Regions from separate parts of the Homo sapiens genome. Here region 2 is linked to region 1. The links come from fine-mapping of genetic effects on gene expression. Tissue or cell type: uterus. Region 1 holds a variant in brackets; the other region holds the start of a gene. All regions are shown on one strand. Distances are from middle to middle.

Evidence for each region. PIP is the estimated chance that this variant, and not a neighbour inherited with it, causes the effect.
Region 2: it holds the start of H3-3A, and the variant in region 1 is fine-mapped to the expression of H3-3A in uterus (GTEx, PIP above 0.99).

The regions. Positions count from the first base shown.
Region 1 is chr1:225,466,096-225,468,773 of GRCh38, forward strand. It overlaps LINC02765 (long intergenic non-protein coding RNA 2765), which reads right to left and starts at 1,677. Exons shown (of 3, transcript NR_187303.1): 1 at 1,094-1,677. RefSeq lists enhancers at 1-341, 1,030-1,329, 1,380-1,639, 1,770-2,049. The variant G/T (reference allele first, on the strand shown) is at 1,351.
Region 2 is chr1:226,061,606-226,064,283 of GRCh38, forward strand. H3-3A (H3.3 histone A) reads left to right here and starts at 1,111. Exons shown (of 4, transcript NM_002107.7): 1 at 1,111-1,206. It overlaps H3-3A-DT (H3-3A divergent transcript), which reads right to left and starts at 890. Exons shown (of 2, transcript NR_185887.1): 1 at 1-890. RefSeq lists silencers at 230-1,079, 666-831, 1,450-1,519.

The sequences.
Region 1 (2,678 bases):
CAAGGCCGACGCAGTGCTCCTGTTCCCCCAAAAGCCTCGGGACTCCCACATGAGCCCATGCGTTACCGGAAAGGGGTCCGGATCCACACCCTAAGAGAGGATTCTAGGATCTCGCGCAAGAAAGAATTCAGGGTGAGTCCGCAGAGTAAAGTGAAAGCAAGTTTATTAAGGAAGTGAAGGGGCCGGGCGCGGTGGCTCACGCCTGGAATCCCAGCACCTTGGGAGGCTGAAGCGGGTGGATCACCTGAGGTCAGGAGTTCGAGACCAGCTTGCCCAACATGGTGAAACCCCATCTCTACCAAAAATACAAAAAATTAGCCAGGCATGGTGATGGGCACCTGTAATCCCAGCTACTCAGGAGGCTGAGGCAGGAGAATCGCTTAAACCCAGGAGGAGGAGGTTGCAGTGAGCCGAGATCGCACCACTGCACTCCAGCCTGGGCAACAAGAGCGAAACTCTATCAAAAAAAAAAAAAAAAAAGAAAGAAAGAAAAAAGAAAGGAAGGAAGAAAAGAATGGCTACCCCACAGACAGGGCAGCCCTGAGGGCTGCTGGTTGCCCACTTTTATGGTTATTTCTTGATGATATGCTAAACCAGGGGTGGATTATTCGTGCCTCCCCTTTTTAGACCATATAGGGTAACTTCCTGACATTGCTATGGCATTTGTAAACTGTCACGGTGCTGGTGGGAGTGTAGCAGTGAGGATGACCAGCGGTCACTCTCATGGCCATCTTGGTTTTGGTGGGTTTTGGCCAGTTTCTTTACTGCAACCTGTTTTATCAGCAAGGTCTTTATGACCTGTATCTTGTGCCGACCTCCTATCTCATCCTGTGACTTCCTTAACCATCTAGGAATGCAGCCCAGTAGGTCTCAGCCTCATTTTCCCCAGCCCCTATACAAGATGGAGTTGCTCTGGTTCACACGCCTCTGACACATGCAGTGAGGACCCCTCCCCGCCCAGGAACCCAGTGGATGATTCCTCTCAGGAGGTGCGGCTGGGAATTAATTTAATTTAATCTAGAGAAATGATGTTTGTTTCATGTTCAAATGTTCTGGAGAGGTTACACCAGTGACAGAGGCCCTCTGAACTTACACACACAAAAGGCAACTCATTAGCAGGAAGATGAGAAAGCAGAAAGCGTCTCAAGACAGGAAGCTCGGCTTGGTGTCACCCAAATGTGTCTCCCCTTGACAAATCATCTCCCATGATCTGCCGGTCCCCGGGGAGGACAGGCAAGAGGCGGTGATGGGCTGTCAATGTGCATCTCGGCGTGTGGCAGTTGACAGGGCACCTTCATAGGTTTCTTCTCTGCAACTTCACTGCCACCCCCTCAGAAACTGAGACCCATC[G/T]GCGGCCGGCCTGAGGCACCCACAGCTGCAGAGAGCCGGGCACATCCAGGGCCTTGGGTGTGTCTCTCCTCCACTGTGGTGGAGGCTCCCCTCCACTGTGCCAAGCCCAGGGGGGCTGGCAGTCCCCGTGGGTGTGGCCCAGAAAGACTGGCAGTGTCTGTCCCAGACCTCAGGGCCACAGTCACCAGATAAGCACCCACTGCACTCAAGGCCTCTCTGATCAAGTCCCACGACCAGGCTCTCCAAGTCCTGACACCGCGGAGACCCCCAAAAGAGGAGGATGGAGCAGAGGGCAAGGCTCTCAGCTCCGCGGACTCACACCCAGCTGCAGAGGCAGGGGGAGCCGCCCTTTCTGTGGCCGGGGAAATTGAGGTCACTTCCTGTCTCGCTTCCCTCTCTCTGTGCTGGCTGCATCCTTCAGAAGGGGGGTGGGTGGCTGCAGGGCAGCGCCAGGCAAGGCTGCGGAGAAGCCGGTGCTCCCTGTGTCTAGGATGAAGAACAGAGCAGGGGGCTCCTCGGCGGTGTCGCTTCACCTCTCTTCCTGCTCCTTGATTCTCTCCACCCCCACCACCAGCCCAGGTGGAGGCTCTCGGTGATGAAGGTGCTGGCAGTGAGGGGCCTGCAGAGTCCGCATCTCTCTGCAGCTCAAGGGGCTCTCGGAGGCCACTGGGAGCTGGAGAGGGAGGAGGTCAGAGGCCTACAATTGGTTTTCCTGCTTGGAGAAAGAACAGATAGGAGCTTTCTAGGGCTGCGGCTCCATAAATAGCTCTAACTGTCCCTTCTCTCTCTTTTATGTTCTTTCAAACATGAAGAAAGAAACAAGCTCTAGCAAGGAACTCAAGTTAGACCGGCAAGTATTTGCCAAAGGTTAAGGGGCCAGAAAGCCAGAAGGTGGACACAACCTTAGGGACCCTGGGCCATGAGCCGTGAGACCTCTAGGATCAGCAGGGCCCAACAGGGCCATGCAGGAAGCCCTAGCTTCAAAGCCACAGGCACTGGGGAGTGGGTGGGGGCTCCCCAAAAACCACACGCTGCTCCCCAAACTCCTTTTAGAAGTGCCCCGGAAGACCTGGACCTGGCTGTGCACAAAAGCACCATGCTCTCCTCTGACCAGATCCCTTGGATGAGGTCCTTAAAGACCCCCTGGAGCTCAGTTTCCTCATCAGTAACTGGAGAGGTTTGCACCAGGTGGTCCTTGAGGGGCTCCCCCCAGCTCTGAGCCCACGATGGTGCATTTCATACCCTGGACTGTGTCTGAAAACTTGAGAAGGAGTAGGGAATAGGATAGATGCGAACTGAGCTTCTTGATGGGGTCCCGTACCTACCCC
Region 2 (2,678 bases), 600 kb after region 1:
TATGCTACTGAGAATTGGAAAACAGGTATATGTACTAATTCCCAAACCACGTTTGCCTTCTTTCTGCCGTTTTCAGCCTCTTCTAAACTATGCAGAAGCTGCGGACATTTGACTATCTATATTCGGCAATTCCTTTCCAAAGCAATCCTACCGAAAACAGATCACACGGCCCCCACGGGCGGGCAGGACAAGCCACCAGGCCCTGGTGCAGGAGCTGCGCGCTCCACACATTGTTTAGAGGCCGACGCGACACAGCCATCTTGCGTCGGGGGCCCGGGCCCGGGAGGAGAGCGAGCCCCGTCCCCTGATCCCGGAGGCCAACACCGGCGAGGGGCTGCCCTGCACGCAGGCGGCCGGCCCAGGAGTCTTAGCGGATCAAGTTGTCTACGGCGGACTCGGGCCGGTCCCGCAGGACCCGGCCGCACTTGGCCGAGCGCGCAGGCGGGAAGGAGGCCGTCGGTCCGCCCCTCCCGCTGCCGCAGCGGCCAGGTCCGACAGCGGGCGCGGGACGCTGGATTCCTATTTGCCAGCTTCCTGCTGGGGAGCGTTTTCCAATGGGGCGCGGCGACCCGGCCGACCGCGTCCTCCTCCCCCACTGCCGCCCGGGTCTCCTCGGGGGCGCGCGCCGGGGCCCGCGCGGGGGCAGCCCCTCCCTCCCCTCCCCGCCGCGGCCCGAGACGCCCGCAGGCCGGGCGTTCACCCGCCGCGCCTCCGCCCGCCTTCCCCTCCCCCCACTTCCCTCCGGGCGCCCCAAACCCGGGCTTCGGGGGTTCGACGCCGTGCGCACACGGAGCGGGATGGGAGTGCAGGGCCGGGGGCGGGGGCTGGCCGGGTGCGGGCGGCAGTCTCGGCGGGAGCCGGCGGCCCCTCAGCGTGTCTTTTGTGTTTGTACACACACGGCGCGAGGCGGCCTGGAGGAGGGAGCGGGCGGCGCGCGGGGGAGGGGCGAGCGCGCGCCAGCGAACGGGCGCGCGGGGGGAAGGGCGGGGGCGGGGCGCGAGAGGAGCTATGGGGGCGGGGCCGAGCCTTCCCTCCATTGTGTGTGATTGGCTGGCGCGCGGCGCGGGGGCGGGGCGGCGTGTGTTGGGGGATAGCCTCGGTGTCAGCCATCTTTCAATTGTGTTCGCAGCCGCCGCCGCGCCGCCGTCGCTCTCCAACGCCAGCGCCGCCTCTCGCTCGCCGAGCTCCAGCCGAAGGAGAAGGGGGGTAAGTTTCCCCGTCTGCCCGCTTCCCCGGAACCGAGCCCCGCTTGCCGTCAGCCCCGAGCCGGGCCCTGGCGGTGCCGGGAGGGGACCCATAGCCCCTCCGGCTTAGCCCACAAACTTTTTGGCCCAGAAATGGAGGTGAGGAGCGAGTTTCCCTGTTCCCTCTGGCGGCGGCGGCTCCCCCGTCTCTCGCCGCCTCAGCCCAACAGCAGCAACCGCCGCGGCGCCGAGCCTGCTCTCCCTCCTCCTCCCCGCGCCCCTGGCTCCTCTTTCTTCGGTGAAATCCCGCCCGCCGCCCCTTCCCCGGACCCCAAACCTTCACCATGACCCGCGCGGGCCTCTTAACTACCGCCCCCGGGCCCCAGCCCCCAGTTTTCGAGCGGGAAAGGGGTGGAAATCGCCGCCGCTTCGCACCCTGGGGTAACTCGCTTTTTGCTGCCTCCCCACAGTTGTTGCTAAGCTTCACCATCTTGTCTCTCTTCTCTGGTCACCGACCATATTTTTTCCCCCGTTTCTCTCTTCCCCATTTCAAAAAAGCAAGAATTTTTAAAAGAGGGACGTTTTTTTCCCTTTTTTGGAGAGGCGGAAACTTGATGCATTTGAAATGCAAAAAAAACTTTTGCATTTTGGAGGGCGGCACGTGGCAGGGGATAGGGGTATTTTCGAGCGATTTGGTGTTTTGTCTCTTTGGAACGGAATCGGATACGTTTTGCGATTGTTTCCATTTTGTTCTGGTCGGGGAGCCGAGTTGGTTCCTGCTCGAGGCGCTGGGAGCGAGGCGGGCAGGTTGGGGGACCCTGTGCCGAGGGACCCGAAGGAGGCAAAACCAAAAGTTTATGTGGTGCTTGGGGTGGACCGGTCGGCGGATGTCGTGCGTTAATTAAAGCCTGGGTGCGGGGCACTTTTTATTTCACTGCGAAGCCTGTGAGGACTGGACGCGAGGACGGGGCTTTGTAGAATGCTCGCTGGTGGTAGCTGTTGTTCCTCTCTTGTTTTTTCGAGACGCCTTTTTGTCAACATAACTGTAAAGATGCAAAACCAAGAATATTTTCAGATATTTACAGCAATCCATCAACAGTCAGACGAAGGGGGGGCAGCCAAAGTGGGGGGGAGTAAGACCTTTTTTTTGCTGTAATTTGACTCGACCTTCCAGTGGTTTGTGCCTTTTTTCTTTTGACTTGTTTGTGGATGGAATGTTTACAGACATTTCTAATTACTGCTTTAATTAAATAAATTGGATCAAAGGCCGTTCGAGGTATTTTTGTTTTGCCGTTTGTCGCTCAGAATTGGCATTTTGAGAGGTGATTGATACTGCTAACAATTTTCTAGTACTCTAGTTTGTTTCAAGAAGAGATTTTGGGTAGACGTAATCTTCACCCTTTCAAATTATATAACAATACGAACATTATTTTTTATACTGATCATAATTTCCAGATTTGGGGAGGGGGTGATCGTGGCAGGAAAAGTTGTATG